6 separate regions of the Homo sapiens genome follow, and regions 1, 2, 4, 5 and 6 are each linked to region 3. Evidence: fine-mapped expression QTL. A gene starts in region 3. Each other region holds a variant in brackets. All regions are shown on one strand. Distances are from middle to middle. Region 1 has its middle 78 kb from the start of GPR6. Region 2 overlaps FIG4 (FIG4 phosphoinositide 5-phosphatase). Region 3 holds the start of FIG4 (FIG4 phosphoinositide 5-phosphatase). Region 4 has its middle 140 kb from the start of GPR6. Region 5 overlaps FIG4 (FIG4 phosphoinositide 5-phosphatase). Region 6 overlaps FIG4 (FIG4 phosphoinositide 5-phosphatase).

Evidence for each region. PIP is the estimated chance that this variant, and not a neighbour inherited with it, causes the effect. A credible set is the group of variants that fine-mapping cannot tell apart.
Region 1: its variant is the best candidate, but not a certain one, in a credible set for the expression of FIG4 in blood mononuclear cells (TOPMed, PIP 0.84).
Region 2: its variant is the best candidate, but not a certain one, in a credible set for the expression of FIG4 in whole blood (TOPMed, PIP 0.52).
Region 4: its variant is the best candidate, but not a certain one, in a credible set for the expression of FIG4 in prefrontal cortex (CommonMind, PIP 0.63).
Region 5: its variant is the best candidate, but not a certain one, in a credible set for the expression of FIG4 in whole blood (TOPMed, PIP 0.84).
Region 6: its variant is the best candidate, but not a certain one, in a credible set for the expression of FIG4 in esophagus muscle (GTEx, PIP 0.58).

What each region holds. Positions count from the first base shown.
Region 1 is chr6:109,897,334-109,902,486 of GRCh38, forward strand. No RefSeq gene overlaps it. Among named protein-coding and RNA genes, the nearest start is that of GPR6, 78 kb to the right of the region's middle. The variant C/G (reference allele first, on the strand shown) is at 2,530.
Region 2 is chr6:109,780,178-109,785,177 of GRCh38, forward strand. It overlaps FIG4 (FIG4 phosphoinositide 5-phosphatase), which reads left to right. Exons shown (of 23, transcript NM_014845.6): 17 at 4,793-4,851. Among named protein-coding and RNA genes, the nearest start is that of FIG4, 91 kb to the left of the region's middle. The variant C/T (reference allele first, on the strand shown) is at 2,750.
Region 3 is chr6:109,689,159-109,694,284 of GRCh38, forward strand. It overlaps FIG4 (FIG4 phosphoinositide 5-phosphatase), which reads left to right and starts at 2,138. Exons shown (of 23, transcript NM_014845.6): 1 at 2,138-2,343. The coding sequence starts at 2,278. AK9 (adenylate kinase 9) reads right to left here and starts at 2,044. Exons shown (of 41, transcript NM_001145128.3): 1 at 1,989-2,044. RefSeq lists an enhancer at 1,622-2,091.
Region 4 is chr6:109,836,655-109,841,807 of GRCh38, forward strand. No RefSeq gene overlaps it. Among named protein-coding and RNA genes, the nearest start is that of GPR6, 140 kb to the right of the region's middle. The variant C/T (reference allele first, on the strand shown) is at 2,816.
Region 5 is chr6:109,757,919-109,762,918 of GRCh38, forward strand. FIG4 (FIG4 phosphoinositide 5-phosphatase) reads left to right here. Exons shown (of 23, transcript NM_014845.6): 11 at 2,332-2,465; 12 at 4,173-4,289. Among named protein-coding and RNA genes, the nearest start is that of FIG4, 69 kb to the left of the region's middle. The variant A/G (reference allele first, on the strand shown) is at 2,310.
Region 6 is chr6:109,818,538-109,823,537 of GRCh38, forward strand. The region is part of intron 22 of FIG4 (FIG4 phosphoinositide 5-phosphatase); the gene reads left to right. Among named protein-coding and RNA genes, the nearest start is that of FIG4, 130 kb to the left of the region's middle. The variant G/C (reference allele first, on the strand shown) is at 1,951.

The sequences.
Region 1 (5,153 bases), 210 kb after region 3:
TTGGAGCTCTTGCAGGGTGAGTTGGGCAGGTGGAGGTAGCTTGCTCTGCCCAGAGCTGTCCCCAGCTTGCTGGCTGACAGACCTGAACCACACCCTCCAGCTTAGCCTCACTCAGCCATTCATATTTTTCCCTTTATCTGTGACTTCTTTAATTTCTTAATTCTTTTATTTTCCAAATTGTTCCCAACATGAACCAGGAAGAGGGGGTGGCAGTCTAGGCAAAGAAAGGCAGATTTATTAGAGAAAGTATGAAAATACATTCAAAGGTTACAACAGGCAGCACAGCAGAAAAGGGGCTGTCTGCAAAGAGGTGGGGCTGGAGGGAAGTTTTCTAGGGTTGTGCTGGAGGGGATTCCATGCAGGGTTCTTGTGCCTGAGGAAGGAAGCCATTCATTGTGCCCACTGAGGTAGTCACACCCTTGGGTAGTTTGTGATCAGCCGTCTCTTAGAACAGTTGTTCATTGTTCTTTCCCATCTGGGGCCTTCCGGGAAAGGCAAGATGGGGGTGGGTTAGCTCAGATCACTGTCATAATTTTTTCACTGATATAATTTTTGCAAAGGTGGCTTCAAAAATAGTGCAAAATTGTTGGAGCAAAGGCTGTGTGGATTGAGGGTTGGAGAGAGGGCAGCAGGAAATGGTAGGAGGTGGTGGGAGATATTTCCAGCAGAGGTAGGAGCAGGCATGGTGGCACTCTCTGCCACCCTACCAAGGCACCAAGCTTCACTCACTGTGCACCTGGCTGGGTGGGAAGAATAGGTCAGAGGGATGCCACTGAAGACCAGGTGACAGGTGATGAGGTGACACAGAAATGTGGGCAAGGAAGTGAGGACCTTGGCAGAGGACATAGAGGGGAGGGGACACATTTGGATTATAGCTAAAAGGTGGAATCAATACATAAGATTTGGTGACGAGTTGAATGAGAGATTGGCACCGAGGGTGACTCCCGCATTTCTGTTACAGTAATTACATGGAAAATACCTTTTCTTTCTCCAAAATCCTGCAGTTCACCTAGATAACTCAACCCAGCACGGCTGGGGGACTGGGCATCCCAGGACATTACCTTGAGAAAAGGATTTTTAGTGCCCTGATGACCCTCTTTCCTAGCAAGGTGCATATTGCCCACACAACCCGACCTCTCTGGGGATTCCACACAACTTCAATTCTTTTTTTTTTTTTTTTTTTGACAGGGTTTTGCTCTATCACCCAGGCTGGAGTGCAGTGGCATAATCAGGGCTCACTGCAGACTCAATCTCTCAATCTCCTGGGCTCAATCAATCCTCCCATCTTAGCTTCACAAGTAGCCGGGGTTGCAGTTGTGGACCGTGCCTGGCTAATTTTTGTATTTTTTGTAGAGACAGTGTTTCACCATGTTGCCCAGGCTGGTCTTGAACACCTGGGCTTAAGCCATCTTCCCACCTCAGCCTCTCAACATGCTGGGATTACAGGCATTACTGTGCCCAGACCACATCTTCAATTCTGATTGAAGTATCTAATCCTCATTTCTCCAATAGAGAGATTAGAAAAGCAGAATACAATACTTAAAAAAAATCCTTTTTTATTTTGAAAAATATTTTAAACTTACAGAAAAGTTGCAAAAGGTATATAGTAATCTCCCATATACTCTTGACTTAGATTTACTAATTAACATTTTGACACAGCTTTCTCTATCTATATCTAATAATTATTATAATTAGTATTACTGAGCCATATGAATGAAAATTGCATATATTATGCCCCTTTATCCTTAAATGTTTCAGCATAGATCTCCTTAGAACAAGGACATTCTCTTCATAACCATAGTACAATGATCAATTTTAGGAACTTTAACATTAATGCAATATTATTATTTAAGATAAGGTACAGTTTATAGTCAGCTTTCACCAATTGCCCCAATAATGCCCTTTATGGCAACTTTTCCCCAAATTGAAGATCTAATTCAGGATTTTGCATTACACTTAGTTGTCCTGATTCTCTTACCTCATTTAATCTGGAAAATTTACTGAATTATTTTGTCTTTGTCTTTCATAACATTGACAATCTTAAAGAACACAAGCCAAGCATTTGGTAGAATTTCCACAATTTAAATGTGTCTGGTGTTTCTAGATGGTTATATGCAGGTTATGCGGTTTATAACATAAGTCATGTTTTGTCCTCAGCATATCACATCATCGTTAGTGATGTTAATGTTGATCAATTAGTTAGAGTAGTGTCAGCCAAGTTATTCTAATATGAAGTTACTATTTTTCTCTTTGAAATTAATAAGTCATGGCTGGGCATGGTGGCTCACATCTGTAATCCCAGCACTTTGGGAGACTGAGGTGGGTGGATCACCTGAGGTGAGGAGTTCAAGACCAGCCCGGCTAACATGGTGAAACCCCATCTCTACTAAAAATGCAAAAATTAGCCAGGCGTGGTGGCACATGCCTGTAATCCCAGCTACTTGGGACTGAGGCAGGAAGAGCGCTTGAACTCAGGAGGTGCAGATTGAAGTGAGCAGAGACTGCACTACTGCACTCCAGCTTGGGCAA[C/G]AGAGCAAGACTCTGTCTCAAAAAAAAAAAAGAAAGAAATTAATAAGTCATCTCTAAAGAAATACTTTGAGACTTCCACTGTCTTAGCATCCATTAATAATTCCTGTGTGAATCAATTACTACTACAATGTTGCAAAATGTTGATTATCTAACTCCATTATCTATTCTACTTTTATTAGTTGGCTTTCTATTTTAAAGAAGAGCCTTCCTCTCTTTCTCATTTATTTATTTAGTATAATATGAATCAATGAAATATTATTTTTCCAAGGGTTAGAATTCATCACTATTCTTATTTGTTTTGATAATCAAATTATTACAGATTTGGCCAGTGGGAAGCCCTTCAAGTTGCTTTTTATATTCTTGCAACATCCTCCCATCATTTTATGAGCACTTTCTTACTTTTAAGAACAACCAAATGTTCTTATACTTGCCCTGCCCCACCCTGGAATCAGCCATTTCTCCAAAAAGTCCTGGCTTCTTTTGGCAGCAGTAGTATTTAGAAACCAAGATCTCTGCTGATTGCTACTGGGATGTCACTGCCATTTCAATGGACAGAGCCAGTAGTAACCACTAATCCCAATTCAATACCACATGGTTCTTCTTTGCTTTTTCCTAGTTTATGCTTGTATCTTCTTTCTTTCATGGTGAGAATCCTGAATCCCTCTGCCACTCCTGGCCCACAGTCAAATTATTTACTTTTTTGCTTAGTGCTGCACTAATAAAGCACAACATAATTCCAGAATTGCTACATTCATACCTCTACCAACAACACCTTTACTAAATTGGAGTTGAAGATTTGTTTATAGATCTTTTTGTCTTTAGATTAACATCATTGTGTGTCCTTTCAATGATGTGCTGGGCATTGTCTAGTAGACCCTCTGTCTCTCTAATGACCCAGCAATTTTACACTATAGAAGTTGAAGAAAACAGTAATGGAAATTATTCTTATCCATAGCAACGTAAATGCCGGTGTCCAGTAGAGATATGATAGTTTTCTGCCCAGTAGAAATATGCCAACAAACATGCGTTGTCTTATAGAATATTAACCAGTTTTGCATCCATTGGCAAACTTACTTCAGCATTCCAGATTGCGCGCACACACACACACACACATTTTGTCCTTCACAAACTTAATCTTTGACCTTTAGGCCAGAACAGTAAGACCACGAAGGTGGTTGTGGCATCTGTTTTCCAGGAGACATTTTTCCTTCTTCAGTCTCACCACTGGAAGGTCACAACATTGACTATTCACTGAGTTATTATATAAAGCAACTAATCCTTTGAAAAATATTGTCTTGCTCATTGCTCTGTGAGACCAGCAGAAAATCAACTCTGGGTGATACGCTGATGGTGAAAGGACTAGAATGGGTAACTGTGCCCCCAGAGAAGCAAACTCTCATTTTGCCAATAGGTTCAATCTTCCCACCACTGTCTGTCCAGAGTTGCTAATGAGTGGCAAAATCGACTGCTCTCACCTCTTCTCCCAGCAAGGGCTCGCCTCTAGTGGAAGTGCAAATGAGCCCTAACACTGTCCTCAGCAGGAGGCCCAGGAGGAGAAGTAAGAGTCAGGAATTATCCACTCACTGTCACCGAATATTCCAGAATCAGCTATCAAACTGCAACAACCATCCTTTATCCGGCTTCTCCTGCTTGGTTAGAAGCCTCTACAATCTGCTCTTTGCACCAGGGTCTACACAGGTATCTCATGTGCCAATCCTCACACCTTCAACAAGTTCAGATTCAGAGAGGAGTTCGGTGACTCAGATTTATTTGACCACTGGCCTTTCAGGAAGCAGAGAGCGCTTTCCCCAGGGACTGTCACTCTTCCACCATGTTTCATTGTTTCCCCAGCAGATTGAGTAAAGGCTATTCTAGGAATGCTGAACGCGATGGAAATGCCTAAGATGATGGAAGTGTTGAAAACCTGATCTCAAACTGGAAAGGTTGGAGAGGCTCCTAGAAGAGGTCAAAATTTGAGCTTTGTGCACCTGTGTGTGCATGTTGGAATGTGTGTTGAAGAAAGGCATAGAAGGGTGCACACAGCTGGGACACACTTTACTGCAAGGGGATGAGGTAGGGCTAGAGGTGGGGATGCAACTGATCAAACATTAGCTTCTCTCCAGTAGGATTTATAATAACAAGCATGGATAACTTTTGTATTAAAAAAACACAATAAAGCAAAAGGGGATAAACAATCTAGAGGTTTCTTGTTGAACAATAGTATTTCATATCATGAAAAACACTTCATTTTACAGTGGATATGAATCATTCCCAGGCTTCTGACAGCCTAAACCCACAAGTGTGGGTGGGTTTGCCCTTTGCTAGGTAACAAGAAAGAAAGAATTTCAAAAGAAAATTTGTTATTTCATGGCACCCATCGTCCCAGTTATCTAAGGAGAGAGTGTTAGAGATGGAAAACCCGAACAACTTAGAAAGTGGAGTGGTGTGGTGCATAGTTACAGCTCCTGGTTGGACTGGCCTGTCAGCACAAACACAGAGGCACTGCAAGAACATGGAGTGCAGGGTGCAATAACCCCAGTGGCCATCAATGCAGTTAAGCTGCCGTGGCCTCTGCAGCAATTTCACAGCTGGAAGGCATACCAGTAGTCAGCAACGACTTCAGT
Region 2 (5,000 bases), 91 kb after region 3:
TTAGCACCTAGCAAATACAATAGGTGTTAGTATTGTTACTGTCTTTGTTTTTGAGTCAGAGTCTGGCTCTGTCACCTAGGCTGGAGTGCAGTGGCGTGATCTCGGCTCACTGCAGCCTCTGCCTCCCAGGGCTCAAGCCATCTTTTCACCTTAGCCTTCCAAGTAGCTAGGACCACAGGTGGACACCACCACACCCAGCTAATTTTTGTATTTTTGGTAGAGACTGGGTTTTGTCATGTTGCCCAGGCTGGCCTCCAACTCCTGGGCTCAAGCAGTCTGCCCATTTTGGCTCCCAAATTGCCGGGATTACAGGTGTGAGCCACTGCACCTGCCCTGTTACTATTCTTTAAGGAGATAACATTCCCTAGTTTTTAACATTTATTAAAGATCATACGGGATGCCCATAAAGTCTGGAAACTTAGATAATGTGACTTATTAATGTAATATTAATAAAGACTTTATTATTTATTCATGAGTGTTTTGAAATTTGTGGCATGCTGTATCTTATACTGTGTTTATCAATGATACAGGAATGGTATAGATAATGGCGTGGCATATCTATGCCATGAAATAATACTTTTCTTGCACAATAAGGGAAGAGGGAATAAACTTAACTCTACCTAGAGTCATTGGAACAAGGTCCTCTTGAGATAAGTACTTCGATGACACAAAATCTCACATTGACTGATCTGCCTAAAACCACTAATTGAAGCTTTGTTCTGAATTTGATTAATATGGCATACAATCATCTAAGATTCCATCTAATGAACTGGTGTTTAGAATGTCACCAAGATGTTTTTAGGTATTAAGCATTAATTATTTCATTGACTCCTAGAGTTGGGAGATTTCTTGGCCTGCCCCCTGTCTGATATGTGAGTTCCCTTTCTGTTTCCCTAGGGAGAGAGAGAGGTAATCTGGCCTATGCTTGACAAGTTCTTGTTTGTCAACTGTTGAAGAGGCAGTTGTTTTGGAACAGTTCACTTACACAATTCTTCCTCATGTCATGCTGAGATCTGCTTCTCTGTAATCTTACCTATTAATCCTAGTTAAAGACCTTAAAAACAAGATTTCCTCATCCACTTGATAATCTTTTAAATATTTGAAGTTGAGTTCATACACTTTCAAAATCTCTTCTTCTACTGGTTAAATAGCCCCAGTTTCTTCAGCTGTTCCTCATATGCTGTGGTTTCAAGGCCCTCCAGCATTCGGAACAACACTCTCCTCTGTGTATATTCCAGTTGAGGTCAATGTTCTTCTTAAACTGTGGCCCCCAGATCTGGGTCCAATAATGGTCAGCATTTGGTCTGATTTGTGCTAGCTGTTCTGAGACCACTGGGACCATCACTCCCCTTGTCCTGGATGCTGTGTTTTCATTGATAAGCATAAGGTCACACCAGCCATCCTCAGCATTGCCATCACAGTGTGCATTCTCCAAGCTTCCTGTCTGTTAGAACTCCTAAGTCTTTTTAACATGTGCCGCTGCCACTCTGCCACATCTGTACCATTCTTGTCATGTTCGTATATGCTTTGCCTACTTCCAAAAAAAGTATTGAAATGTGTACCTTTAATGAATACTTCTAGCTTTATAGTTTCTTCAGATTTAATCAGTTGACCATCTTGATCCTAATTCAAGTACTTGATGAAAAATGTTGAGTACAGTAGGGTAAATGGCAGAACCCATTGATTTCTACCCACAGACAACTCCTTCCACATAACATTGTTTAGTGCCTTTGATTGTAATCATTTAAACAGCTGTAATTTCACTTAACTACACTATTGCCCTGCCCATATTTCTCTGTCTTGTTCACAAATATTGATTGCTCTGCTGACATTCATGAATGTTTCAGGGGGCTCCCAAGTTAGCTAGGAAAATTAGACAGTGTAAAAATTTTCCCTAACCTTCCTATGGAACCGAGAACTCTTAATAATACTAGGAACTGAAAAAGAAAAGAGAATCTGACTTACTAGCTCTTTTGTATGCAAAGAAGGGAGTGACACTAACTTGCAATCTCCTGTTTTCTGATCCCTGGTCCCAAAGCAGGTTTCTGACCCAGTGCATTGTTCTTCCTCTGGATAAATGTACCTGGTAGTAGAGGTGGTAAAGATTCCCCTATCTTGGGCTTAGTCGTCTTAGATGCTCTTATCCTCCATCCATTTTAGCTTATCTTCCCCAAGGCAGATATTTCTTTGCTTCTGAGACTCACCCAAAAGACTTGGAATCTTTTAAAAGTGTTGTTAAATTGCTACATATTGTAAGGGAAATACAATTTAGTAATATTTTTAAAAAGTTTATGGCCTGGTCTTAAATCATGAATACATGATTATCTTTTCATTTTTGCTCACCACAAGAATTCTGAGTTAAAACACATTTTTTGTAATGTCTACTTCTTCTTCCTAAGCAAGCTGATTGTAAGCAACATTCTTTAGGGAATTTCTCATATACTGATAACTTCTCTACTTTACTCGTCTGCCAGTGTTAGATCATCACAGAATTAGATTTACTCAGATGCATGCATACACACATGCATACACCCCTCTTAAACAATTAGTCCATGTCTTTTTCATTCCCCTGATCTGACAGTCTGATTTTCCTATTAGGAAAGGAAATGATATTAGCTTGGTGTGGCTTGTTTTTGTGAATAGATGTGAATTCAGAGAATGCATTGGCTATCTTTTTAGGTCACTTACAACACATCTCGATCTCATATTTGATTCTGTTATGTTGCTGGGATCAACATCACTTACATCA[C/T]TTGTTGATGTCTGGTTTTTGGAATCTGTCACCCTCTCACTGCTGAGCATCAAGACTACTGTTATCCTCAGCAAACTAATGCAGGAACAGAAAACTAAACACTGCGTGTTCTCACTTAAAAGTGGGAGCTGAATGATGAGAACACATGGACACATGATGGGAGAGAACAACACACACCAGGGCCTGCAGTGGTGAGGGTGGAAGGGAGAGCATCAGTATGAATAGCTAATGGATGCTGGGCTTAATACCTAGGTGATGGGATGATCTGTGCAGCAAACCACTATGGCACACATTTACCTATGTAACAAACCTGCACGTTCCGCACATGTACCCCTGAACTTAATGAAAGTTGAAAAAAGTAAATAAATAAATAAATTCTGCTAAATGTAAAAATTAAAGACTGCATTGGCCCATTTCCAGTATCAGCTCCATGTTTCACTGTTCCTTAAAGATTATAGATCTCAGCTACACCGGGACACTAGCCTCTTGTAGAGACGCTCTAGCGCCTCCTTCTGTCTTCTGGGTTGTACACAGTTCCCTCTTGTGTTTTTTCTTTCAGGTGCGAAACTTGTTATGGCTAGGGAGGATAGAAACAGTACTGGAATTAAGTAGCTCTACTTTCTCTGTCATTGCTTTCAGCTTGGCACTTTCAACACATAGAGCAGTGTCTGACACATAGCAGGTGCTTAATAAATGTGGAATAACTGAATGAATTCTTCACAAGCAGCAGCCTTATCCTTGCTCTGTTCTTCTCATATTCAAAGCCTTGTTATTGAAAAGGGGTTGGAGGATCTGCCCCTTTGGTTTTGCTCAGGAGTTTGTCATAGAGGCAGAATCTCAGGCCCCACCTACTGAATCATCTGCCTTTTAACAAGATCCCAAAGTGATTTACATGCACATTGAATTTTGAATAGCACTGCTGTAAAGCATAACTTCAGTCTAAAACAAAACTTTAGGAACCTTTCCTGTTAGAACAGTGATTTGCCCCACACAATTCATTAGGCTTCATATTCCTTTTTTCATCATTAGTGGTTGTGTATTCTGCTTGCCATCCCTAGGAGAGTTCCCTGTGTTGCCAGTTTCATTTGGATACTTTCCTGTTGCTTCATAATCAGGATTATTCAAGATTGTAATTTCAGCTTTATATTTTTAGAAAGCCTTTCATTTATATTAAAATCTCTTTTTAGCAATTTTTGGCTATAGGCTCTTTTTTTAATCTTTAGAAATCTGATTTTTAAAAAATTCTTCTCCTTCCTAGCTCTCATGAACTTTGACATATATCCTTTTCCTCTAAATATTCATTTCATTAGAATTTGATTGAGAATTAAATTAGGTGTTCAGAGAGAAGGCCACTTAGGATTCTTTCAGATTCTTTGCTTATAGCAGACGAGCCTTCTAGCAGAAATCCAGACAGGTGACATTCTTTACTCTTACTCTGACTAGCTTCTGTAATCAAGTAGCACATATTTACAGTTAAAGAATAACGGTCTATACTGCTTTCTAAGGGAACTTGTTCGTTAGGACTGTCTAATTCGTTCCTTAATGATTTTGCTTAACTGTTTTAACTATACACACAGGTGTGTACTATACAGCAGAGTAGATTCTAACTATCAGATAACTACACGCAAGGGAATCCTGGTTGTAGGACTTGGGTCAAGGTCCCACTACTCACCTGGTGGCAGAGTAAGTCACTGTAGGCACAGTCCCTGGGAGAAGTTAACAGCAGTTCATAGAGTCAGCTTATTACCTTCTAATCCTTTTTAGCTAAAAGTAAATAATATCAGAGCATCTTGACTCTCAGGTGTATTCATGGCATTTTTGTAGATCTGCAACATAGTTGAAGGAAGAAAGCAGTTGGGAAGGGAATTACCATGTTGAAGACCTACTGTGTCAAAAGCTTTGCAAACATGTTTTAAAAAGAAAAATATTAACTTTGAAGTAGGAACATGTTACTATAGACCATATAAATTATTTTATCCAGTAAATTTTAGAAAACCAACATTTACATTTGGTTCATCTTTTTTTTTAATTTTTATTTTATAGTTATACTTACTGGTGGACACCAGAGGTGATAAAGCATTTACCATTGCCCTATGATGAAGGTAGGTAACTGTTTGTGTTTTAGTTTTTACACTAACATATTTTGGCATTATACCTTAATGAACTTGAAGCATTAAATCCTTTGCACATAGTATTTTATTAGAAACAAATGAATGGCTGTTCAGTATTATGTTGCTGCTTTAATAGATAG
Region 3 (5,126 bases):
GTAGTGGATTCTGCAGCTTGTCCCATTAATCTTTTTTTTTGTAAGTCCTTTTCTTTTAAAAATTGAGACTAGCCACTACCTTAAAGAATTAGGGTGGCATGGTGTGAACTTGATGTGGAGGAAGAATGGATACGAGTGCTGCAAAGGGTGGAATGTAGCAGCTGCTATTAGTGCCTCCCCCATATCCACTTGACATACACCTTTTCTATGCACGACCAGCCCAACTTCCAAAATGTTAGCATGTGCGACTTTTTGCCTAAGGGCTTTCTCTGGCTGCCAGAACCTACTCTCCCTGAACACAGGGTAGACTGGAAGTTCTAGGGCATCAATGTTCTGCCCTATCAGGCTTCATCCAATAACTGATGGAAGTTGGCGAATAAATACTCCAGCTTCCTTGCCCCTCAAGAGGGGATAACTGAGACATGCCTCCCAGTATTCCCTAGTGAATTCAGCCCACAGAGAAATTTCTCTGGTAATATTTCCTTTATTAGTTTTCTTCCCCTCCCTGCTGCTGTTTCCTGGGATTACGTCTCATATAAACAACCTGCCTTCAAAGTTTTGTCTTAGGATCTGATTCCGGGTGAAATAAACTAAGATAAAGTTAAAATGGAAGTGCTAAACTATAATAATTGAAAACTAGAATCCTTCAGGTATTTTAAGAGTTGCTATCCTAGATAAAAACACTGTGCAAACATTTAACTAATATTCAGAAGAGTTGGTTTCATTATGAAACAGAACACAGCTAACTATTTTTCCCAGTTAAAAGATCCAAGTCCAAAATGCCAGAACGGACACGGCCATCCTTCTAGTTCTTAATAAAAGGAGTACCAAACTACAGGGGGAAAGAAGCGCAAAATAACATAGACTTAAGTATTTCTTTACAATTTTTGTAATTTCTCAAATTTTAATTTACAATATGATCTTTGGTATTACATGAATGTTATCTGGGTATGCTATAATTCTATAATTTTTTTTTAAAGTTTCCTTACACTTAGCAGTTGAGAAGCCCTCTAGCAGAGGTTTCTGAGGTTTAGAGGTTTCCTGGGAAACCTAGAATTGCCGCCTAAGATAGGATAGCTGCCTCTCCCCTACATCTTATACTCTTGCAGTAGGTGTTCAGTAAATATTTGTGGAATAAATACTTCAGTCGTTGAAAGGAGACGTGGTTTTAAAAAGTGGATTTACAAAGAGACCGTTTTGCAAGAAAAGAAGCTGGTCTGGGGGTCCCCGCAGGAGGCGGGGTTCCGTGCAACAGATACCAAGATGCCTCCAGGGCGGACCACGACCCAGCGGGCCGCCGGAAGGCTCCTTACCTGGCCGCAGCCGGACCCTCCTCAGGGAAGCAACTGCCTCCAGGGACTCCGCGGGGCTGTCGGGCGGTTGCCGGGGAGACCTCTGGCCGCCACGCACCTGCTGCTTGGTGGGGCGGGGCCTCGAGAGGCGGGGCTGTAGTTCTTTGTCATTTCTTTTCCAATTCGAAATAGTCACTTTTGTACCTAATTTGGCATTTATAATTATAATACACTCATTTTCACAACTATGGAAGAGAGGGTACGCGCATGCCCATTTATGTCGCACACATGAAATGAAGAAACCTCATTTCAAGCGCGGCTCCGCCACACTGCGCTAGTCTCTGTCGACAACTTCAAGTGGCTAGCCTCACGCACAAACGTGTGGCAAAGCCACACTTTCCAGCTTTAGGTGATTTTAAAACAATTTCTTGGGCCACACAGCGTAGGTACAACATGGATTAGAGGTGAGGGGAAAACTGACACTCAGTGAAGGACCGTCAGAGGGCCGGCTTCCAGGAAAATGGGCCGCAGCAGGCAGGGAAAACACAAGGATCTATCCTGCAACTCGGAGAACCCTTTTCAAAAGAAGCTACCCAATCCCAAACCTTCCGCTTTTTTCCAAAGAGAGGGAGGAGATAAATAGACTCAATTAATCCGTCGACTTTTTCTCCGCCCATGTTTTCCTCCAATCCTTACCAAAGATGGTGCCCTTCGCTTCCTCTCTCGGCAGCACGCAGGTCCCGGGAGCCTCTACCCGACCTCTCTATGATACGTCCTCCAGCCCCGCTCCCGACGTGAGGGGCGGGGCTTGCCTGGAGGCGGGGCGCAGGGATCCGGAAACACCTGATCATCTATAGGTTTAGTGCCTAATGGGTGTTGTTCCTGGCTGGACTTGATGTCCAGGGCCTGAGGGGTTTTCTCGCCGAGTCTCCTGGGGCGGTCCGGAGGCTCGTGCCCTGTTGTGGGGCCCCCATTTGCCGCCGCCATGCCCACGGCCGCCGCCCCCATCATCAGCTCGGTCCAGAAGCTGGTTCTGTATGAGACTAGAGCTGTGAGTACCCCCTCGCGGCGGGGCGCAGGCGGGAGGATGGATGTCTGCCGGTGGGTGTGGGGCCGTAGGACAGAGGCTGTACTCTGCCTCCTCCTCCTTCCTCTCCAGTTCCCAAATCCCTGTCAAACACAGCCTTGGGGTAAGCTAGCTCCCTTGAGCTGTGCCTGGGCGCCTTTCCCCTATTTTGGTACCCTGGACATTGCAGCATTTGCAGGTCCACTTACAAGCCATGGCTGGAACACGCTGGAAACAGGTGCTTGTGGTACCTCAGGAACTGTTCATGAGGTTCTCTGTACGAGTTACTGGATTCTTTTCAGCTTTCAGAAAGTCTGTTAAAGTTCTAGAGTTCACAAGTTACAGTACAGGCAGGGGTATGAAAAAAATTTGAACTATGACTTGTAACTTATTTTTTCCTATTCCATGGTATACCATCACTGCGATTCATGTGAATTACACTTCTATTGGTGAACTTTTTGGTTCTCTTTTTTTCTTATTTGAAAGGAAAGGAAAACTTACTTTGTTTAAAGACAGATAATTTGTTTGGATAACATCTTGCTTTTCACTTGACTTTTTTCAACATAACATTTACTTTTAAAATTTTATTACTTTGAATGGCCATGTAAATAGTGAATAAGCAGATCAGTTTGTATTTCGATTACCAGTTCCTCAATTAAGGGAGAATGGTGTTTATATAACTTCATACTTGGTCCTTTCTGTGGGTGGAAAGCAAAGTTGGTACAGTATAGCTCTTCTAAATTGGGGTGCCACAGTGATATTAGGGACTGTGTTTAATATTACCCATTTCATGCTAACAAGATTGCATATGCCAGATATTTTCATAATGCTCTTCACTATGTTATAGAGTGCTTTATAAACTGTTTCTCTGAAACTTGGGTTGTCTCCATTAGAGGAGTATGAGAAGGCATTTAACAGTTTCTCAGTTATAACGTAGTCCTAATAGCACAATAACCTCTCCCTCAGGTTAACATGAGTAGAGAATTGTGGACCTTAAATTAATTTTGCTGACAACTTTGATTAGATCTAGAGCAGAAAATGACATTATCAAATATACTGTATTTGCAAGTATTTTCAGTTCTCTAATGAGACCCATAAAGAAGTATCATTTGTCATTGAAATGAAACCTATTTTCTGTAAAATATGCTGCTAAATTTCCCTCATTAGAAACATAAATAACTTTTTTTTTTTTCCCTTTGAGACAGAGTCTTGCTCTGTCACCCAGGCCGGAGTGCAGTGGTGCTATCTCGGCTCACTCACTGCAACCTCTGCTTCCCAGGTTCAAGAAGTTCTCGCACCCCAGCCTCCCAAGTAGCTAGGATTACAGGAATGTGACACCATGACCGGCTAATTCTTGTGTTTTTAATAAAAGACAGGGATTCTCCATGTTGGCCAGGCTGGTCTAAAACTCCTGGCTTCAGCCTCCCAAAGTGTTGGGATTACAGGCATGAGCCACCGCATCTGGCCGTAAATAAAACACAAATTTCAGCCCATTAAAAAGCTGATCACTCATGAGGACTGCGTGAGATATTAGTGTTCAGAAAGCACAATTCATATTATAGGGCTCTTCTGCTCAGAAATCTTCAGTGGTCCCAATTCTGAAGCAAGTAAACTCTGAATCCCTTAGTTGGCATTCAAAGCCATGTATTATTTGTCCTCAACTTGTCTATCTAGTTTTACATCTAATTTAATATCAATTAATGAAACATTTATTGAGGATCAACCATGTGCCTTCATATGCCTTATTCTGCAGTAAAACTGTATTGCTTTCAGTTCCCTATATCTGCCCTGTGTTTTTCTGCTGTTCTCTATTCTCTTAATGCCACACCCCCTCTTTTCCTGTCAAAACCTTGCTGATCCTCACAGCACATATCTGGTCATGCCTTGCAAACAGTAGTCTCTCAATAGATGTGGATTAAGGAGCTCTAACACAAAGAGATAGAGGTGTGTTCCAGAACTCAGCTGTGACCCCTCTCAACTGCCTAAGTAATGGAAACTAACTCTGGCCAGCTTAGAGACAAAAGGTAAATTTATCAGAGGGATGCTAGGGGAGCCATTGCATGGTATCCAGCTTCTGGAAAAGCAGGAAAGAGATAACAGGTTTGAGAACCCTCTCAGAGTACTGCCAAAAACAGTGTAGGTGCTGGGAGAAAAAATCTGATCGACTCAACTATGATTGGTTATCATCCCCTGAGTGGACAAATCATTCATGGCCAGGGGGGGTCTGGCAGGAATGATTTAGCTGTGGAATCAGGATCCTCTTTGTTTCAGCAAATGGTTGGGGCTGGGCAACCACCCTTGAAAATGTCTGCTGCATTGAATCACTGAGTCTCGGTTTTGTTAAATAATTTTTTTTTTTTGGTTAAAGATATAAGCAGAAAGGTTTTGTTTTGTTTTGTTTTGTTTTTACTAATAAGCTCAAAGTATAAATAAATAAGAAAAAGGCATAAAATTACAGGCAACTGGATAAATGCTATGAATTAAAAAAACAAAAACTGTAGTAGGTTGTAATAATGAGGATAATAGCTCAAAATATTCTACATATATTTTATTATTTAATCCTCATAAGACCTCTAAGAGATCATGCTGTTAATTCTACTACTATATATATTATTTAGTAAAGAAAAAAAATGAGGCAAAGATAATTTAAGGCAGTTACTTAACCCATTTATGCCAGAGGTTGCAAATTTTTTTGTGTGAAAAATCAGACCTTTGCGATGACCTTGAGCAGTAGGATATAAATAACTCCCACAAGCTTAGCGTTCCAA
Region 4 (5,153 bases), 150 kb after region 3:
GTGAATTTTTTATTCACAATCCTGGCCCTAGGAAAGGGGAGCAGTTTCAAAAGTTTCTAGTTGACCTTCCCCACTCTGAGAGGTCTTGAACTGCAGTCCAAGGATCTAATGTGGAAGTTACTCTTAACTGCGGTGTATCAGTTCCAACTATACACTCAAGTCTGGAGAAAATGACCACACAGGCCCAAGGGGCCCATGGTGTGCTGGACTGTGGCCTGGACTCCATTTATTACCTGGCCCCTGTGAGCCCTCCCTCTAGCAGTGGGGCCATGATGACATTTTGCATCCCTAACTGTCAGTGTCAACTCAGACCCCTGTCTAATAATTGGTTAAAGTGCAGGGATTGAGAGAGAACGTGGGTTCAAGTCCCTGGTCCAGCACTTGGTGAACAAGGGACTTCAAGCAATATTCAACCTCTGTCGGCCGCATTTTCTATTTCTATTAAATGGCCTGGGATATGACTTTTAGAATAGTATGAATCCCATTTGGATTTTATGAAGATTAAATGAGACATTTTATGTAAGGAGTTTAGAATTATTCCTGGCCCATAATAGCAAGCACTTTTATATGCTAGTATTCCTAAAAACTAAAGGCCATTTGAGATTCTCCAGCTGGGGTGTACTTTGCTGAAAGTCTGAGAAGTCTACAAAAATTAGACAGTCTTCCATATCTCAGCACCTAGCTCTACTCTGGTTTAGAGCCAAAGACAAGAAGAAGCATAGTGGGGAGGTGGTGAGAGGCCGAGGAAGGCTACTGATGTCAAGAAGAGTTTTGACCACAGAACTAACAAGCAAGATGGCTGAGGGGCACTTTTCAGAGAGGCCCCCGTGACCCTCATACATGGCCCTAGGTGTCAGTAAACTCCTGGTGATGAGCAGTACCCATGTATTGCAATGCACCTCACTCCTGGGACATATCTCCGAGGAAGCAGGGCCTAGAATGGTTCTTTCAACTGTGCAAGGAGGCCCAACCCCTTTGCTGGACTGGAAAATATTTGCTAAAAGAAGGGCACAAAGCTGCTAAGGCTGGGATTTCCAACAATCTTATGGGCTGAGAAGGCCAGCCTAAATGGGAGACACCCTGACTTTGGGAGGAGGACATGGTTGGGTGGCTTGATGCATCTGCATATAGCAAAGTGGAGAATTTTTATTTACCATAATTGCAGGGTGGCAGATTCTCACTAGGAAAATGATTAGAGAAAGAAAGATGCATGCAATGGGAAGATCACATGTTGGGGGCATGGAGTGCATGACCAGTGAGGCCTGGTGGGGAAGAAGCCAGGGAGAGCATCCTGGCGAGAGGAGTCCCGTGGGGGGTGGTGGTAAAGAGAGAGGGAGATGTGAGATGAAAGTGAGAGCTGTCTGAAAAGGATGGTCAAGAACCAAGTCCGAAATGGGATTTGACTAGCTTTTGAGTATGGATTTGTGTTTGTTTACATAAATATATTTATTTGACTATATTAATTTAACTAACTGAGCTGACATGTATTAAATGGGATAGCCACAGATCCAGGGCCATGTACAGCCCCGATTCTGCTCCATGTAGGGGCCTTGAGGAGTATATCTGGCAGACAGGGCTGCTCTGGCCCCCATAGCAATGAGCAGCCGTCAGACAGTGCCAGCCACCATTTCCCTGCTCCTTCTAGTGCAGAGCTGGGCCTGAAATTGAGTTTTGAGGTTTACAGCTCAGCATGGCTGAGCTGTGTTTGGAGGGAGGGGTCTGGATGGCTGGGTTTTTTAATGTGACACCATACAGAGACTGGTTCTAGAGGTGGCCCAGTTGTATTTGGGTTACACACGCACATCTCCAAAGGCTGGCACAGTGACAGGGCTGGTTATGCCATTGAAGCCAAGGAGTAACATAGAACTAAGGGCAAATGCCTGAGATTAGAAGCCTGACAGTCTGTTGCTGTTCTCACTGGCCAGTGGGTCAGCACTATCCCTGCCTCTCCATAACCTGGCTGCACAGTGGATGCTACCAGCCCTGCCCATGGTGCCCTGAATCTTTGACCAGAGCCTCCAGACCCTGTGCCCCTGATGCAGGAGCTTCCAGACCACAGGAGATCATCATCCTGGTGGCTGGACTCGGCAGCCCAGAGCAAAATGACCCTGGACTTTCCCTCAGCTGAAACCATGCAGATAGGATAAGACAAGATGTTTTCCAGACTCTAGGACACAGCCCACCACTTGGCCCTCTCCACCAAAAGATGCTCTGCTGAGAAGTTAGGAAGAGGTTAATGGAAGGCATGCTCCCCTCACCTCAGCAAACATGTCAGGATTGCAACTCCTGGGGATGCCATGTGCACGTGAATTTAAGAAAAAAAAAAGGACTTCTTTGTTTGGGAGCAGGGGCAGAGCAACCCAGTAACTGAATAATTGGAGTGACCCAATAGGATCAGTGATGATTCTTACAATGTGGAGCTAAGCTGAGTCACATACACCAGTGAGGAGAGCAGGAGTGCCACCCCAGGGTATGCTTCACCTAACTCTTAGAGATAATTTCATTTCTGTTTTTGAAAATCCTCTTGGTACAGTTGCTGATAAGCTGATCTAGTGCCCACAAAAACCCCATGTGAAAATCTAAGGTCATTTAAAAATTACATATGTTAGGCTCTCCTTTTAGCAACTGCAATCTGATTGAGCTGGACAACAAACATTTATTGAGTACTTACTGGGTCCCAGGCACACTGAGCTGCAAACCTCAAAACTCAGTTTCAGGCCCAGCTCTGCACTAGAAGGAGCAGGGAAATGGTGGCTGGCACTGTCTGATGGCTGCTCATTGTTATGGGGGCCAGAGCAGCCCTGTCTGCCAGATA[C/T]ACTCCTCAAGGCCCCTACATGGAGTAGAATCGGGGTTGTACATGGCTCTGGATCTGTGACTATCCCATTTAATACATGTCAACTCAGTTTTTTGTTGTTGTTTTTGTTTTTTGAGATAGGATCTTGCTCTGTCCCCCAGGCTGGAGTGCAGTGGCACGATCTCAGCTTACTACTACCTTTGCCTCCCGGGTTCTAGAGATTCTCCCTCTTCAGCCACCTCAGTAGCTGGGATTACAGGTGCGTGCCACCACGCCCAGCTAATTTTTTTGTATTTTTAGTAGAGATGGGGTTTCACTATGTTGGCCAGGCTGGTCTCAAACTCCTGACCTCAAGTGATCTGCCTGCCTTGGCCTCCCAAAGTGCTGAGATTACAGGCGTGAGCCACTGCGTCTGGCCTGTGAAGGGCCTTCTTTAAATACAGAGGTGAGAGTCTCCAGCCAAGTCTGGGTAGCCAGGGAGGGTTCTATATGAATCAGGAACAGCAAAGGGGTCCGAGGCATGGGGTCTAGTCACCTCCAGGACTTGTTATCTGGAATCAGTGCCTTGCAGGTGGACCACCTGGTAAAGGCAAGTCTAGATGGGGAAGAAGCAAATTCTGCCCCCTTTTGTCCACTGCTGGGGTGAAAAGACATGGGGGAAGGGAGGCTGATGAGAGGTGATTGGTAATGAGTTTTTAATGAAACCCATGAAGCAGTGAATTTACATATAATTATGCATACTATTTTGGAATTACTAAATATTAATATTAATTCAATAATTTAATAAATATTTATTTTCATTTTAAAAATAATTTATAAATATTAAATAACTTAAATATTATAAATTATTTCAAATAGGTAGGTTACTTTTTAACTAACTTTGAAAAAAGTACCTACCTATTTGAAAAACACAGGTGTGCATTCTTGAACATGAAAAAGATCTCTGGTTGGAACTCCTGCAGCCAGCAATTTTAGCTCTTCTTTTTTTTGACAAATATGTTTATGAAATAGTATGTTGTAAACATTTATGAAATCATTACATTGTATCCCATAAATATATATAATTATTATTTGTCTATTGAAAATAAAAATATAAACAAACCTATAATGGGGCAAATATTTCCTGTGGAGGAATATACAGTAGGATGGACTTCCTCTTTTAAAAAGTAGCATTGGGCTAGGCACGGTGGCTCACACCTGTAATCTCAGTACTTTGGGAGGCCAAGGTGGGTAGCTCACGAGGTTAGGAGTTCGAGACCAGCCTGACCAACATGGTGAAACCCCATCTCTACTAAAAATACAAAAATTAGCTAGACATGGTGGCATGCGCCTGTAATCCCAGCTACTTGGGAGGCTGAGGCAGGAGAATCACTTGAACCAGGGAGTCAGAGGTTGCAGTGAGCTGAGATTGCACCACTGCATTCCAGCCTGGTGACAGAGCAAGACTCCATCTCCAAAAAAAAAAAAAAGTAGTATTTTCAGGAGCACACTTAGAATGGGGAGCTCTGTCCAGCTGTTATGTGGTGGGCATTGCTGGGCTGACCCTCTATCGCAGAGACCACAAAGCAAAGAAAACAAAAGGAATCCGGAGCCCCGGTGCCCATATTTGGCTGGTGGAAGCATCACTAACAAGCAACTTGCCTGAGAATTAGACAAACCTAGAGCCCTCTTCAGCCTTAGGAGTGAGCTACAAATCTCGACACTTCCAGAGATGAACACTGCCAGCGCTTTAAGAGCCCAAAGCTTTCTGTCTGGATTTCTTCTCTCCCTCTTGCTTTGACTTGCTGGTCCCACAACCCCATCCTCTGAGCTCTGACCCTTCCCATCCTCCACCACACAACCACCAGGCTTCTATGTCACTCTTCCCATCTCAAGAGGTCCCCATTCTCCTCCAACTGATGCCCCCCAAGTCTGTGAGAAGACGGCTGCTTAACTATTATGAATGCATCCATTTACACCTTGGCTTAAGTATGCTTTCAGCTAATTCATTCAATAGACTTCGTGTGTGTGTGTGTGTGTGTGTGTGTGTGTGTGTGTGTGTGTGTGTATTTTCTATGTGCTAGGCCAGATGCAAGCCTACAGAGGCTGGAGAGTTAGGCAGGGACTGGGTCTCCCCACATGTGTCTGCCAGCTACCAAAAAGAAAAGGCAGCCCTGATACATGGCAAAGTACGACAATTACAGGATTAGACCTGAATATCTACTATTACTAGGCTCTTTGCTAGAGATTGAAAACACACTGGCAAGCAAGACAGCTCATTTTTTCAAAGAGTTTACAGCCTGGTGAAAAAGACAGGCAAGAAAAGGGCACTTAAGCTTCATAATGGTAAGCATTATTGTATTAGTCAGTATTCTCCAGA
Region 5 (5,000 bases), 69 kb after region 3:
CTTCAAGGAGAACTACAAACCACTGCCCAGTGAAATAAGAGAGGGCACAAACAGATGGAAAAACATTCCATGCTCATTGATAGGAAGAATCAATATTGTGAAAATGGCCATACTGCCCAAAGTAATTTATAGATTCAGTGCTATCCCCATCAAGCTACCATTGACTTTCTTCACAGAATTAGAAAAAACTTTAAATTTCATATGGAACCAAAAAAGAGCCCGTATAGCCAAGACAATCCTAAGCAAAAAGAACAAAGCTGTAGGCATCATGCTACCTGACTTCAGACTATACTACAAGGCTACAGTAACCAAAACAGCATGGTACTGGTACCAAAACACATACATAGACCAATGGAACAGAACAGAGGCCTCAGAAATGACACCACACATCTACAACCATCTGATCTTTGACAAACTTGACAAAAGCAAGTAATGGGGAGAGGATTCCTTATTTAATAAATGGTGCTGGGAAAACTGGCTAGCCATATGCAGAAAACAGAAACTGGATCCTTTCCTTGCACCTTATATAAAAATTAACTCCAGATGGATTAAACACTTAAATGTAAGACCTAAAACCAAAAAAGCCCTAGAAGAAAACCTAGGCAATACTATTCAGGACATAGGCATAGGCAAAGACTTCATGACTAAAACACCAAAAGCAATGGCAACAAAAGCCAAAATTGACAAATAGGATCTGATTAAACTAAAGAGCTTCTGCACAGTAAAAGAAACTATCATCAGAGTGAACAGGCAGCCTACAGAATGGGAGAAAATTGTTGCAATCTCTCCATCTCACAAAGGGCTACTATCCAGAATCTACAAGGAACTTAAACAAACTTACAAGAAAATACCCCATCAAAAAGTAGGCGAAGGATATGAACAGACACTTCTCAAAAGGACACATTTATATGTGGCCAACAAACATATGAAAAAAGGCTCATCATCACTGGTCATTAGAAAAATGCAAATCAAAACCACAATGAGATACCATCTCACGCCAGTTAGAATGGCGATTATTTAAGTCAGGAAACAACAGATGCTGGAGAGGACTTGGAGAAGTAGGAACGCTTTTACACTGTTGGGAGTGTAAATTAGTTCAACCATTGTGGAAGACAGTGTGGTGATTCCTCAAGGATCTAGAACCAGAAATGCCATTTGACCCAGCAATCCCATTACTGGGTATATACTCAAAGGATTATAAATCATGCTACTATAAAGACACATGCACACATGTTTATTGCAGCACTATTCACAATAGCAAAGACTTGAAACCAACCCAACGGCCCATCAATGATGGACTGGATAAAGAAAATGTGGTACATATATACCATGGAATACTATGCAGCCATAAAAAAGGATGAGTTCATGTCGTTGAGAGTGATGGAACTACCTAATGTAGATATTGGGCTGATGGATGCAGGAAACCACCATGGCATGTGTATACCTATGTAACAAACTTGCACGTTCTGCACATGTATCCCATAACTTAAAGTATTAAGAAAAAAAAAGAAAAAAAACTCACCATGCTCTGTCTCATTTAAGTCTCACATTGATGTTGTAAGGAAGATACTGTTTTTACCCTATTTTATAGATGAAAAAATGGAGGCCTAGGGAAATTGAGAACATTGCCCAAGGTCACATGGCTAGTGAGTGGCAGAGTCACCATTCCAACCACAGAACTGTACAGTAAAGTACTAGCTTCTCTTGAATGAGAGGCAGTGCAGTGTCTAACTAAAGAGATGCCCCAGGCAAGGAGGCAGAAGGCAAGGTTTAGTTCCATGAATGCCTCTCCACCTCAATTCATTCAACCACAGTGTAAAAAGAAAAAGAAATGCCTGTTTTGGTTATCTCACAGAGTATTTGCAAGTCTAATTTATGAAGTCCTGTGAAGGCTGAGAAGCTGCTTTCTGCTGTGCTAGTTTGGGAATTGTTCATCCAGACTAGTTGATTTCTTTCTGGCCTCCAGCTGGTTAAAGTTGGGGGCTCCCTTCTTCTGGTCCTTGGGAGGGATCTCCTCTGTCAGAGTCAGGTGTGGAGTGTGTGGGCCATGGCCCACGTTGGGTAAGCTGGGTTTCTCAGGGTGCAGGGAGAGTACCAGGAAGAAACCTGATCTCCTAGAATCTTCAAAGTTCATTAGCTGTTCACTTTAATACAATGGAGCATTTATTTCTTTGTGTTTTTATTATTTCTGATTATTGTAGCTAGGTTTCATTTTAGTATATTTAAGACTTGGATTTTTTTGTCTTAGCTTAGCTTAAAAGTAAACATGTTGAGCCTGTTCCTCTGATTTAAGGAAATTAGAACACTGA[A/G]AATGTTTAATTTTTGATAAAGGAACGAGAGAAAAGAAAGCATGAAAGAATTCTGAGTGAAGAACTTGTTGCTGCTGTGACCTATCTCAACCAATTTTTGCCTCCTGAGCACACTATTGTTTATATTCCCTGGGACATGGCCAAGTATACCAAAAGGTGAATGATACTCATCTGTCTGGCTATGATCGTTTCCTTTTCTTGTGATGAGAAATAACAGGAAGCTGACCTCTGTGGTAAAGTAAATGTTACCCTGTTAATTTCCTTCATGAACCTGTTGAGGGGCTGTTTTGAGTGCATCAAGAAACTAACCAAACATTTTTTTTTCTTTTTGCCTATCATATATACCATTTGCAAATTGTTTGAAATATTTAGTCATTTCAGAACATCTCTACAACTGTTCCTTAAAGGCATTAGTTTTGCTTTTTTCTATATCATTCTGTCTCACTATTTAAACACTTTCTCAGATGTCACTCGTGGATGAACCTGTGATAATTCCTGACTGTATATAGTAGATCCAAACTCCTTAGTGTAATGTCAAAGGCTCGTCATCTGGTTGGCTTCAGAATGTGACCACTTTTTATTTATCCCAAGGGCTGTTCTCTTCCAGAAAACTGAATTTTCATGCTCTGCCACAAATGTGGCAGCCAAAGTCCCATCCTAAGCCTCCATTCCTCTTCTTCACCCTCCCTGGGATGCTTTCCCACCTCTCTTTTGTCTTTCAAGATCTGATTCAAAACTCATCTCTTCTAAGGAACTTACTTTTGTTAAATCTTGCATTGTCTTTTTGTTCACTTACTACAGAATCATACAAGCTGTAGGTTTACTTAAGGTCTTATTTTTTAAGATGTTACTATATCGTTTTGTACTTATTGTACTTTTTTCTGAGTCATTTTATACAGTTAGATACACACACACTTTCTCAGAGTATAAGTTTGTTTACAAGTTATTGCCATTCATATTATTTTTTTAATTATCATTTTTCAAACATAGTCTTGCTCTGTTGCCCAGGCTTGAGTGCAGTGGTACGATCTCAGCTTATTGCAGACTCTGCCGCCCGGGTTCAAGCGATTCTCCTGTCTCAGCCTCCTGAGTAGCTGGGACTGCAGTCATGCACCACCGTGCCTGGCTAATTTTTTGTTGTTGTTGTTGTTGTTTTTGTTTCTGTTTTTGTTTTTTGAGATGGAGCCTCACTCTGTTGCCCAGGCTGGAGTGCAGTGGCGCAATCTCGGCTCACTGCAAACTCCACCTCCCGGGTTCACGCCATTCTCCTGCCTTAGCCATCCAAGTAGCTGGGACTACAGGCACCCTCCACCACGCCCGGCTAATTTTTTATATTTTTAGTGGAGATGGGGTTTCACCATGTTGGCCAGTCTGGTCTCGAACTCCTGACCTTAAGTGATCCGCCCGCATTGGCCTCCCAAAGTGCTGGGATTACAGGCGTGAGCCACTGCACCCAGCTGCCATTCATATTATTTTGCAGTTTTTTCTGCTCTGCCACCTGCACTGTGCGTGGTGCTCTTTTCACAGCCGTTTTATGAATGTATATTGACTTGACAACTCTTGAGGAGTGAAAGGCTTTGGAGAAAGCTCAGGCAGGGATGTTATATGCCAAGATTAAGGATCACCAATATTTGATATTAAGTTGCAGGTCTTTTGTGTCTCTTTCACATCAAATGTTGCTGGTTACTGAGTACACATTATATTCTAGACATTGTTACATGTTTCTATCAAGTACCAGCCAAGAGATTTTAAAAATTACATCTTTAAGTATCATTGCTATAGACTTTACTGGCTTTAGATATAAGGATAAATATATATTAAAACTTGGCTTCTCACTTTTCTCATTCTTCCTTCTCTCCTCAGCAAGCTGTGTAATGTTCTTGATCGACTAAATGTGATTGCAGAAAGTGTGGTGAAGAAAACAGGTTTCTTTGTAAACCGCCCTGATTCTTACTGTAGCATTTTGCGGCCAGATGAAAAGTATGTATGGTATTTTAAAACTTATAATAAATGATGATTTTTGCTCTTATGGGTATTCTAAATACAGCAGTTTGTACTACTTGGAAATTGGATGAATTTAGTCCTGGGGGGAGGCACACTGCTCACATGACTGAGTGCTGAATGTTCACTGGGGCATGGGAATTCCTTTGGTGGTTACCTACATACCTTGAGATGTAAGCCATGGGATCTGCATCTCTTGCTTCATAGAACAAATGTTACATAAAATATTTCTGTAAGTAAAATTTTCAACAGTGAACTATTTTTCAGTATTGAATAGAAACAGACATTTTTTTCTTATAGATTACATACTAACATTTTTATAAAAATAGTATTGTATTATAGTTATTCGCTCACAAATCTTTTATTACTATTTTGGGAGCTTCTTCAGATCAAGGATTTATGCTTTATCTTTTAAGAAACCAATACTATGTATTTATGGCATTTTATTTTCAGTTAATGTAGTTAACTACAATCATAAGACAATAAAAAAGAACTAACTACTAGTGTATATGTCTTTGGAAGTAATCCCTTTGTTATAGTTTGCATTGTTTGCACTTGTTTATTTGAATTTTAGGGTACCCATGACAGGGGTCCCCCAAGACTAGTCCCAGATTTCAGTGATTCACTAGGAGAACTGAAAGGACTCCGCCTATTGTATTCTGGCTATAATTTATTATGGTGAAAGGATAT
Region 6 (5,000 bases), 130 kb after region 3:
CTATTATATTATTAGGTAGGCTGTTAATCTCTTACTGTGCCTAATTTATAAATTACCATGTCATAGGTATGTATGTACAGGAAAACAGGATATATGAGGGTTGGTGCTATCTGCAGTTTCCAGCGTCCATTGGGGGTCTTGGAACATATCCCTGAAGGATAAGGGGGAATACTGTATTCAAAAAGCCATTACCACAGTGCCCAACTCAAGAGCACATCACCTGTGCCACTAATCTGCAAAACACATACCCTGCATCCTGCTGCTTTCCATATGACCCAGTTTCAAATCAAAGCACTTGAGTACAAGTCGCAGGTAGAACCTAAATTGCATTCTGAACCTGAATTGCAAGGGATCCTGGGATATTAGTTTTTGCTTTTCCGCTGCTGCACACTAGACGGGGAATGCAGTGGATGCTGAGGAGCCTCATCTATGTCATGTGTCACTGTCTGCCCTTTAGCTTCCCAGTTATCCGTGTATACTCTTCTTGCTGTAAGTAGGACCCACTCCATTCCCTGTAAATTTCTGCATCCCATTCAAAGTCCAGGATCTCTGGGTATGTGTAGCTCTCTTCATTAGGTCCAGATAGAGCTTTTTATCACCTAGTGACCTATAAATAAAGACTGCCTCTGCTCCTGATATACAGTGGTGGCAAAGGAAAATTAAAACTCTCATTCAGAAAGGAGGAGTATGGGAAACATACAACTGCTATTTGTCCTTAGTAGTGACCTCATCCCACTAGGCAACAATGGTAAAGGCACCTTGCTCAGATAGTAGAGTGAGGTCCTTGGGTAGCCATCCAGGGCTCCTTTGTCCATGAAGCCCAAGGCCCAAATCAGTTTCAGTTGGGTCACATTTTGCCAGAAAGTAACTTTTGGTTATTATAGCTTTTGGGATTTCAGGATTGCAGATAGGAATTATGTATCTGTAATTTTGTTTTTGTTTTTGTTTTGAGACAGAGTCTTACTCTGTTGTCCAGACTGGAATGCAATGGCCTGATCTCGGCTCACTGCAACCTCCGCCTCCCAGGTTCACACAATTCTCCTGCCTCAGCCTCTGAAGTAGCTGGGATTACAGGTGCCCGCCACCACGAGCTGCTATTTTGTGTATTTTTAGTAGAAACGGGGTTTCACCATATTGGCCAGGCTGATCTCGAACTCCTGACCTCAGGTGATCCGCCTGCCTCAGCCTCTTAAAGTGCTGGGATTATAGGCATGACTCACCATGGCCATGTAATTGTTAACAATAGTTCACCTTTACTGAGCACTCAGGCACTATGCTATACATATAAACTTAAACTCATTTACTCCACTCAACAGCTGTGTGAGGTAGGAATTCTTAGTATCCCCTACTTCATTGATTTCTACTAAATCTTTCTTAAAAAGCCATTGAGTCCCTACCATATGCCAAGGAAAAAGAGCAAAAAGTCTGTACAGCCTCAGCAAAAGTTGCTCCCACTCACATGAGGGAGACAGATGGGGGCACAGACATAGGTGTGCACAAGGCTATGGGAACAGAGGAGAGGGGCATGCCCTACCTATGCATCAGGCAGGGCTCCCAGGCAGGTACTGGTCCAACTCTGTCCTCCAGGCAGAGAAAAAAACCAGCCCTGAGTGGACTGGGGAGGTCATTCCAGCAGCTTGTTAATAGTAAACCTGCTTCTTCAATCTAGCGACTGTCAAATGCTTCTGAGACCACAGCTCACATGAGAATAGATGGTATACCATCTCCTATTAGCTGCAATAAAAGTATATCTGATAAGTAGTCATTTAAAACATTTCTCTAACTCTTCTTGTACCTCTACTGCTATGTAGGCAATACCTGATTAGCCACATGCAGATGAACCATGAGATTAAGAGTGTTACCACCTCACCCGCACCCCCCAAGTCTCCCATCACTCAGATAGCCAGTCCATCTGAACATCTGCAGTATGCGTTGTCTCTGAAGGGAACA[G/C]GTCCGGCAAGAGTAGACGTGGGAGTTGAGCTGGGAAAGAGCTTCTCTGAGAGCAGCCCTGGGTAAGGAGGGGTGGTGTAGCAGTGCCGATCTCCAGAACAAGGAAAATGGAGCCCTGCAGCTGACAGTATGGCAAATGTAGGGCTCAGTTTGAGGGATGGGTGAAAAATACACTTTTAAAAATAGAGCCTGGTCGGTTCTGGAAGAAGGCAGCAGCAGCAGCAGCATCATTTTAAAATCTCTCTGAATCCTCACACAAAAAAACAGAACAACTGGTTAGCAAAACCAGGCACCTACAGACAACACTTACCTCAAAACTGTGCGATACAGTATCCTCACTCACCCCCAAATCTAAAGAGGATGTGGAAGTAAACCCCCCACAGCCATAAAGACCTGCATGATAGCAGTGTGTGTGCAAGAGGAAGAAGCAGGAGGAAACAGTGGGGCATCTGAGAGGCCTGAGAATAGGAGAACCCCAAAATAGCTCACAGGTAGTCGCCAGAAATCATTGAAGCTGAAACAGAAGGGGTTCACCCAATTCAATACCAGGGGAGTGCAAGGGATTTTTGGTGAGTTCTGAAAGGGGCTGAGGCCGTCTGGGCCACATACAGTCTTGAACCCAAACGGCCAAAGCTCCCTACCTGGACATGGCAGGAGAAATTGCTGATAGTGGCATTAAAATTGAGCAGGACAATGGAGATGAAGGAAGGAGAAAGCCCAGACAACATTGAGGAAGGGGAGCAGAGAGGAAACCTCAGAGAGCAAGCTGTGGCAGTTTTCAACACTTCACTGAAACAACCAAAGAGAGTTCTGTGAAGTTAAGTAAATCTTTCCTGAGCAACATCTTCTTACAGCTCTGCAAAACTAATTTTGCACAATAAGCAACAGAAAAGTATCAAGGGCCAATCTCATCATAGAATTATAAAGAACAGAGCAAAATAACATTCCTACAGACAATGAAATCATGCCAGAAAGACAAGTTAATAAAAGAGGTTAAAACAGAAACATACTATTTCAAAATGAACTAAAATACAAAGCTTTAAAAAGAAATGAAGAAAGACATTAAAAAGGACTGAAGATGAAGTGTCAAGTGATAATTTGACAAGTCCCAATGGGTTACTGGATCTAGGCATTGGCCTCAGTGACTGTTAACATAAAAAAGATAAGCAACCAGAGACTGTGACCCTCCTGATGAAGCAATACACCACCAGCCATAGTGTTACCAAAGCAATCGAAACAGCATCTCACCACCCTCTGGGTCCAACTGCTGACCCACAGCGCATATAAAGGGCAGAGGAACACTTTGAACTGCATCTTGACTATGCAAGCAGCTAAATCCAAACTGAGGGAAACTCTACAACCCAGATTCTTCAACAGATAAATTGTAAGAAAAAGAAAAGTGAGAGGCCGGGTTCAGTGGCTCGAGCCTGTAATCCCAGCACTTTGGGAGGGCAAGGCAGGAGGATCGCCTGAGCCCAGGAGTTCGAGGTTGCAGTGAGCCATGATCGCTCCATTGTATTCCAGCCTAGGAGATACAGGAAGACCCTGTGTCTTAAAAAAAGAAAGAAAAAGAAAGATGAGAGCATCTGTAGATTAAAAAGCATATCACACTTTTGAAATGAGCAGGACTATAGAATCTAGGGGTGCACATTTGAACGACAGTGTCTTTTTTTAAAAGTGCAAACAAGTGATTACTATAGAAGTCAGGATAAGGTTACTTATGAGTCAGGGTAGGGGATTGTGATGGGGTTGGGGCACCTGGAAGGGGCTTTTGGGTTGGTTGTCAGAATTTCTGTTTGTTTACCTGGGTGATGTTCACTTTATAATAATTATGTGTTTGTTTTGTGTGATTTTCTGTATCGATTTTATTTTGCAATAAAAAAGTGAAAAGCACTGGTAAATCTGAAACACAGTAGTTTTTCTATGATAAATATTGGGTAAATATTGTTAGTTTTTATATTTAATTAATGTGTACATAATGGTATTTCAACTGAAAACTTTACCAACCTTGTAGCAGCCTCTAAATCTCTATTGTGTATTTCATTGATCTTTGCTATATAACAGTGTAAAAAAACAGTCACATTTTAAGGACAAGATGTTCCAGCTCTACCTAGGAAATAATAGGGGTTACAGTATGTTATCTAGATTTATTGGCTCCAAACCCCATATGCTCATTAACTATATTTTTGTTCTAATATCTGCACAATAGAATGACCATTATAAAAGTTCACATGGCTTCACTTAAAGCACATTACTTGGTGGGGATGGTTGAAGTGTATATATATGTGTGTGTGTGTATGTATATATATATATATATATATATATATATATATATATATATCGCTTTCTTCAGCATTGTTTTTAAAGAATACATATACATATATAAGTAGGTATAAAGCATAACTATATATATATAGTGTGTGTGTATATATATATACACCATATCTCATCTACACACATGCATACACATTATTTTTTAATCTAGTGAATCTGATGACAAATGAGTCTACAAAAGATAGAGTTTAGCAGCCTTAGACATAACAAATGCATACATTTCTTTAATATCTATTAATGTCATTGTATACTTTGATCTATAAATAATTTTTTTGTGCTGTTGATGTTGCCTAGGCTTGGCGATAAAATCCTCAACCTTTGCCAGACTGCAGTGTCTTTCTTGTTGGTCTGTCATTGACATGGCTCCCTGACAGGTTGAAGACAGATCAGTGTTTGAGAAACACGTACAGTAAGAATTTTGCTGTCCTCATGCTCTCTCTATAACCAAAATGTCACTGACTCTCTTCCTATCAAAGTCTTTAAAGACCCAGCCTACTCTGAGGAGCTGAAATTCCTTATTGCTGATCCTTTGAAGGGCCTCATGAGCAGACAACCTGCTCTCCTGGTCACCCCTAGTTCTGTGTTATTTTAATGCAATTGAATGTAGTCTCCAGTCATCTCAGGATGTGTCATTGTTGTGGATAAAAGCAAAGTACAGTAAGCTATCTTGGCTGTTTGCTGGGAGCATTAAAAAGACCCACATTTAATTGTAGCAC